Homo sapiens: one gene and its partner. The protein of the gene in region 1 interacts with the protein of each later gene in a pairwise test. Each region holds a gene or a part of one and is shown on either strand. Other genes may lie near its edges.

Evidence for each region.
Region 2: the proteins of DENND11 (region 1) and SETBP1 interact in a two-hybrid assay, tested with the Homo sapiens proteins (one large-scale study listed by BioGRID).

What each region holds. Positions count from the first base shown.
Region 1 is NC_000007.14:141,656,865-141,660,683, reverse strand, and holds part of DENND11 (DENN domain-containing protein 11), read left to right. Parts: 3' UTR 1-3,819.
Region 2 is NC_000018.10:44,697,779-44,701,597, forward strand, and holds part of SETBP1 (SET-binding protein), read left to right. Parts: intron 1-3,096; exon of another isoform or gene 3,097-3,263; intron 3,264-3,396; 5' UTR 3,397-3,568; coding exon 3,569-3,819.

The DNA of each region.
Region 1 (3,819 bases):
AGGCAGGAGTAGAAGTGAAAGGAAAGGTCTGATTCTCCTAGAGGACACAAGAAGACCTCCTTTTTCTGGAATTAGGGAATCTGCCGGAAGGAGCTGTTTGAGGCATTTCTGCTCTGAGCCTTCTATATGCAAACACTGCAGTTTTAACTGCAAGCTCAGAAGTGCTGGTGTAAACATAGCAGGGTGAGAATGAAGTTCCTGTTTTTTCCTTTGAATGGTGAGTCAGGGCTTCTGGGTTCCCTTAACTTTGTGCTTGTCTCGGTAGCTTTCTGTCTCACATCTCCACGTGTCCACCCTCCTGCTCATGCAGAGGGCCAGGGTATGGGTGGCCCCAGAGGAGAACGTGCCAGTGAGGCAGTGCCATGTTTCAGGTCATAGGGGCCTTGGGCTCAGCTGACCCCAATGCAGAACTTCTCCCTTTAAGAGAGATTCCAATAAATTGGTCCTTCCCTACCTTGCCAGCTTCTTCATAGGACCAGAAATCTTGTGCAGAGCCTCTGCTTGGCTGAACAGCGTGTGCTTTATCTCTTCAGTTACCTTTGCCACTGTTGAGCATCCTCAGAGTATGTCTTGCCTGGGCTATGAAGTGGAGCCTGTGGCTTCGGAAATCACCTTTCGAAGCCTTGCTCTATGCCAGATTCTGCTCCCCAACATGACAGATTAACAGGCACAACCTAGGATCCTTTGCTACCAGTTCTCTACTAGGGAATTCCACAGTGGCAGCAGAAGCTAGGAGCCATGTGGACCTGCTTTTCTGCCAGTCTTGAAATATTTTCTGAGAAACCATCTGCTTTTGTTCAGAAGAAAGTGCTGAACATCGTTCACAGACTTCTAGGTCTGTAAGCTCTTTAGGGGCGGGCATTATGATGACCACCGGCCTCCTGGAGGAGGGTTGGATACCTGTGGTGTGACACCTTCTGCCACCATCTCCTGCCGGGCCTCAGCCCTCGCCTGCCTGAGCAGGCCTAGTTCTCCTGTGAAGCTGTCAGCCTGATCTCATGCCACACTGTGAAATGAACTATGTGCCAGTTTGGAAATGATTGCTGACCTGAGATGCTGGCTGGGCTGCCCTGTTGTTCCTGAATAAGTCAGAAGAAGTTCCAGGTGGGAGTGGAATTCAGGTTTGGGGCTCGTTGGTATCCATGCAAAATATGACAAAGGCCTGTTCAAGAGGGCATTTTCAATTCTGTAGGCTCAGCAGATGATACTGCCCAGCCTTTGGGAAAATGTCCAGTTGGCCCCTGGCTTAGGACTCTCCACAAGGAGTTTGAAATGGTAGGGCTTATCCCCTACCAGACTAAAAGTATGGCCCAAATTATGTGTTTAGAATTTGCTTGGCCTTTAAACACGAACCATTCCCTATGCCTGGTAGAGACCATTCCAGTGTCAGTGTCCCACCTGGGACCTGTACAGTCCTCAGTAAATTATGATTGCAATGAATTAGAAGGCTTTTGCCTTCCATATCCATCATCCATTATAGCATCTGTGCTTCCACCTGGTTAGGGGGAGGGAAGCTGAAATCATTGATGTATCAATAGAAGTAATTTAGCTTAGGAACTTGCATCTATAACTTACCTTGTTTTGTTCCACTTTAAAGTCAAGACAAGAAAGTTAAGATAGCACACAGGTGCACATGCTTCCAGATGCCACATGTGAACATTTGTTGATCATGTGACTACCGATGACACTTTAGCTAGAAGATAAATTAAATCTTAGCTAAATCATTGTTTTTCCTTCTGGTGGCTATGAGGATGAATTTGCTCTCAGTCTTGATGCACTGAAAGCCCTTCAAACACAGTAAAAGATGAAATCACTCATCTTTAAACTGAGGCCTTCAGGGAAGCTTTTGTAAAGGACAGTAATGAATTAGGCTTTCAGTTTTAGGACATCAACCCTCCGAGAAAAGGCAGAAACCCGAGGGACCATTTATTTCCCTTCGAAACTGTATAGCCCAGGGAATGGATTGAGATGCTTTCTCCAGACCCTGTATAGGTCAACCTTGCAGAGGTAAAGGAGGAGGGGCAGGTGGATGAATAAAATAGGATAATGCTCAGCTTGGCAGTGGACTTGCCTTAGTGTGATGACAGGTCTAACATGGGCAAGACAATTAGAATGGGGACCAATATGCCAGGCATGGGCTTTTATCTCCCTAGTAGATCCCAAGCTAGTAGGCTTGGATTCTGCCAAATGGCCAGCCCTCCTGTCTTCTCCCCGTACCTTGTAGTTAGACCGAGGTGAGAATCCTGCTGACCCCAGTCCCATCCCCTCTCATTTCAGGAAAACCCTTTTGTGATTCAGGTAGGGGGAGAGGAGGAGTTAAGGGCTCCGTTTACTCCCAAGTCATGGATTTTTAATATTCCATTTTTATCACTAATATACCTCTCTTCCTAGAAGCTACTGGAGTATTGAGTGTTGTGGGAAAAGGCTAACTGTGAATTAAGTTAATGTTTTTCTTATAAGAAATGGAAGTTTATTTTTTTATTGATATTACTATGTGATGAACTGAGTATGCATATACTGAAATGGAAGGAAATTTTAAAACTATTATTCTAGAAGAAATGGGCAGTTTTGTAATTTGGTGGTGGCTGAGACCCCATAGAAGTTTTACTATGTAAATAATTTGGAGAGTGAATAAGGAGATTGTGCTATGAAATCCTGACAGCGCTCTTTAGGAGGCAGACTTGACAGTCCTAGGAAGGTTGACATAAAAATACCAACCTTCAGTAAAGCTCTAGTACAAAAAAGGGTAAATGTCATCATTCTTATTTTTAGGCCTCTTTCTTGAGAGAGGTGGGAGTGGGAGGTAGTGTTATAACTGGCACTTTAATTTGTTTTTGGAACTAGAATTTAGGGGCAGTTGGATGAAATTGCAAATTTAGAAGGGGAATAAGAATTTTCTAGTGCTATATAAAGAAATGATGATGGAGACAAAAGCCTTGCTTTCCTCTTTTTAGAATTTATTTTCGATTTTTAGCATACTGTGGGGCTTTTAGAGCTAATATGATCTAAATTCAGAAAATTTAATTTTCATAGTAGGCCAGGTGTGAATTACTTATGTTTGCTATAGAATGCTTATTTAGACTAACAATAAATTTACTTTGCTTTCTAAGGCCAGTCAGCGAATGTGGGGATGAGGCAGGATGTTTTAAATGAGCCAGAGATGATCCACAAAGTGAACAGTCGACACAGAGGTCTTTGAGTTGGATGGTTGCAAATATATTGACATTAGAGTGAAAACTCCTTCCTTTGGGTAAACTAAAGAAAGATAAAGTATACTAAAAAATTTTAAGATGGTGTTATACAAAAAAAAGTTTGGGTCTAACGTGTCCACAAAGACTGTCAAGTGAAGAATGGTGGAGATTCTTGGTGTTTGAGCAGCCAACCTGGATGAGTGACTTCAGGGACAGAGCAGAGGAAAGCAAAATGAATTTCCTTTATTTACCCAAAACTTGTTGACTGAATTTTTGTATAGGTCCGGGAAAATAAGCCTAAACAAATAGTTGTAGCCTTAGAAAAACTGTTTTCCCATTTCTTTCTGAGTTAGAATCAGCATAGCCTCCCTGTCGCCTTAAATGTAAAAATCCTATTTTGATTAATACCCCAGCCTAAGAGTTATAGCAATACGAGAGACTGAATCTATTTTTGTTTCGGGTCTTTACCTCATAGTATGAAATTAGTAAGACACTGCATAGATTTTGCCCTGAATACTGGTGTGCCCAGGTATGCCGTGCTCTCTCTCTGTTTCCAGTGGTGGTAATTTTAAGGCCTAAAGAAAGCTGGGGTTAATCCTGAAGCTAAAAGTAAATGTTTCTTGAATTG
Region 2 (3,819 bases), on another chromosome or scaffold:
GGTCTGGAGTTTACAGAATGTTGCCATGGAGAATTGAAGACTTGGGGATGATCTGGAAATATGGAAAGGCTTGGGATCTTTTTATTCATTTGTTTATTCATTCCTTCGTGCAACAAACATTTGGGGAACACCAATTGCATGGCCGGCATTGCAAGGATGAGAGGAAGTGGATATAAGAACAGATTCTGTGTATTTTAAAAAATACAGAAAGAACTATGTATAACATTGCTGTGGAGACTGGTTTGACTTGAGTAGTTACTGCAAGTTGGTGGCTAATTTGCTTTGGTCTTTTAAGGCGAGATCAGTATGAAAAGTCTGGAATAGATGAATTCCTAAAGATTAAGGCTATTTGAAACTGCATTACTGTTTTACCTACAGTATTTATTATGACATACTCACATTGCCCTGGTTTGGGTCTTCAAGCAATGTGAATGAAATTTCAGCTGAACTTTCTTATGGCCCCCTGCCTCTAACATCAGATTCCCTTAATCCAACCCTCACACCATGTACCAGAATTATCTTCCTAAAGCTTAGATTTGATATTATTCCTTCTCCACTGCCATTCCTTAAATGGCTTCCCATTACCTGTAAGATAAAATCCAAACTCGTTAGCACAACATTCAAGGAAGTTCATGACTTTGCCATGACCTTTTATTTCCAGCCTCACCTCTCATAGATTCCCAGTTTCTACCATACTTCCTAGCCAAACATCAATTCCCTGTTTCTTCTGCATAATCCTGCACACGCCTGCCCAGGACGTGGCCTCACGTCTTCCCTTTCTCTGCTACGTCTTCCTTCTTCCTGCTCTACCTAGGAAACCCCCATCAAGATCAAAGATCTGTCTTCTGCTCTCCTCAAAGCCTTTCTGTGTAGTTTCCTAGCTACCTACACCTTGCTCAAGTGGAGAAAACTTTCTTCCTTTTGATTCTGTCCTTTCTTACAGTACATATAAAGTTCTGTGTTGTTTTAGAGTGATTTGTCAAATCTCTCATCAAAAGTGTAACTTCCTTGAGGAAAAAGATTGTGTTTTCCTTAGTATTTTGATTTGAGAACAGAAAAAAATTTTTTGTATTGAATTTTTTTTGTGTGGATCTTTTATGACTTGAATTTTAAGTTTCAGAACTTTGTCTTGTACACGTAGTAAAATGTAAGAAATGATTGTTTCATTTATTTCACTCTGAAGTGAATCTTTTTTTAATGGAAGATATTTTCTTAATATTAATAATATATTCAGTGTATAAGCCCATCAATTCATCTAAAGTTTAGAGTTCACCTTCTTTTATTGTATCACAGAATCTGTAACATACATTTCCCTACTCTGGTTCAAAGGTCCAAATGGATTTCATTTAGGAAATTTGTATGTATATGCTTTGTCTTTTCTCCTGACCTGGGGAGATTTTATAGGTAGGTATTAGAGAATTAAAATGTCGTTGGAGATTCCTGCCAAAGGGAATAGACTGTGAACATTACTGCCATAAGAAAACATGGCTTGCAATTTGCATGGATCTGGGATACACACTGAGAAAGACCTACTGGATTCTTACCGCTTGACAAATGGGGAAATTTCCTAAGGTACATTGATGTCTCCAACAGCTGGGGTGGTGCCTGACACTAGTAAGAGAGGCCTCCGTAAAGTCAACTTGAGTATAACTTTTTAAAAATAATGTGTATTATTGGGCAGATAAATCTAGATGAGACAAAAAATCTTATCAGTAAAAGAAACATCAAGTGTCATCTGGTCTAACTTCTCCCCACCTCCCAAAGTGGAGACTTTGTCCATCTTGTAGCATGGGTCACAGGTGGCTGTTTTCAGTTTTGGCTCAACAGTGTCAGTGAAGATGCTCATGCTCTCACTAGGGCAGCTTCTTCTTTTTCAGAAAAGCTGTATTCGTTGAATCTTCCCCGAAGTGGAAGCAGTTGTAAATGTGTCTTTCTGCAAAGCTGAGCATTTTCCAGTAGCTGAATATGCTCCTGGGCTTCTCTGGGGAGCAGGGTCCGTGTTGGAGCCGGGGCTGCCTTCCTGGCTGGCTTCCTCACAGGGCGTCAGCTAAAAATGTGCTGATTCTGGAGACAGAAGACAAACGTCTGGTCTTCAGGCTTCCAGTTCTTGGTTATTCTGAATATGTCTTTGCAGGCATCGTTGGGCATTTTTTGGTGGGCACATTTGCCAGCCACTTTAAATTGATGGGCTCAGAGGTAGAAACCTAAGATGTACAGTCATGTCTTCTGCTGGGAAACTTAAGTGTTCAGCAGCTGAGAAAGCTTGAGTGTGATCCAGCGTACAGCCTAAGGGTGGGAGGATGTGATGTTTGCAGCCCCAGGGCTCTTGGTTTTCTCCTGAGACTGAGCGTTTGGGCTTCCTTTTGGGCTTTGAAAATTATGAGTATGAAATTGGGAATAATAGAACGTGGGGTGAAGAAGGGTGAAGGAGAGTTTAGCTGATCCTGTGACAGTTTGGAGAGAGCCTAACTGATTTTTCTCTTCTCATCTTGGAGGAAGGTAGAGAGGAAGATCCTGGGGGGACTCCTGACACTTCCACAGGCCTATAAAATGCTCCTTCTCTCCCTTTTTCTCTTTTGCTGCTATGGAGACACAATACTACTTCATTTAAGAAACCAGAAAGGGAATTACAACTGTCTAGAAAGGCTATTTTTAATCTAAATAATTGATAATGATTAAATTTCTCTCTTTTGTGTCAGTAGAAACATTTGTTGAAGTTGTTTTCCATTAATCACAGTGTTATAAGTGATTTGCCACTGAACTCTTTTTATTTTCTTTTTGTGTGCCTCAAACCTAAGCTTTGCATTTGCTTGAAGAAATAGAGAGGTCTTTGCATAATTGAAATAATGCATAGTGAAAAATGATAAAGGTAAAATGGTTAAGAGATAGGCTGAATGCCCCTCCTCCAAGTGGGTGGAGAGCTTGGCCCAGGCAGCCTGGGGGTTGTGCTCAGCTTTGCAAACTGTTCTTCACATGTGACAGAGAAGCGGTGCAAAAAGCCAACCAAATACAGTTCCAGCAGACCTGAGCCTCAACACTTCAGACTTCCCTTTCGTCATGATTGGTTTTAACAGTGACTCAGCCAGCTGAAGCTTCAGTATAAAGAAACCTCTAGCTTGCTACCGGGCTGGAGAACTCGCACCTCTTATCTTTATTCTTGGGCCTACAGCTATAAAATTAATAGCAATCCATTATGAAGGCGTGTGTGAATGTGTTTTTCCCTCTGCTCTAGTAAAATCCAATTTGGGGATGTGCTTATTCTGGTTAGCTGTTTTTCCATCATTTCTTTTTTCCGGATGCCATAGATACGTGGAAGGGGGCCTCTGGAACTTAGATTGAGTAACCTTGGGGGTCATTTTCCTTTCTGCCATGCCTAACTGTCTCTTTGCTTCTCAGTTGCAGATCTGATCTCTTCTGAACACCTCATCGTGTCTCCATCCCTGGGAATCTGACCCTAGCAACTGGACCACTTTGTTCTTGGAATTTTGGGTGTCCTCTTTTCTCACCTTTCCCTTTTCCCTTTTCCCCTTCCCCCTCCTGAGAACTCCGGAAGACTGTAGAGATTGTCATGGAGTCCAGGGAAACCTTAAGCAGCTCCCGGCAAAGAGGGGGCGAGTCAGACTTCCTGCCGGTCTCCTCAGCCAAGCCCCCAGCTGCTCCTGGCTGTGCAGGAGAACCTTTGCTCTCCACTCCAGGACCTGGGAAGGGGATCCCGGTGGGCGGAGAGCGCATGGAGCCAGAGGAGGAGGATGAACTAGGCTCAGGGCGGGATGTGGATTCCAACTCCAACGCGGACAGTGAGAAATGGGTGGCAGGAGA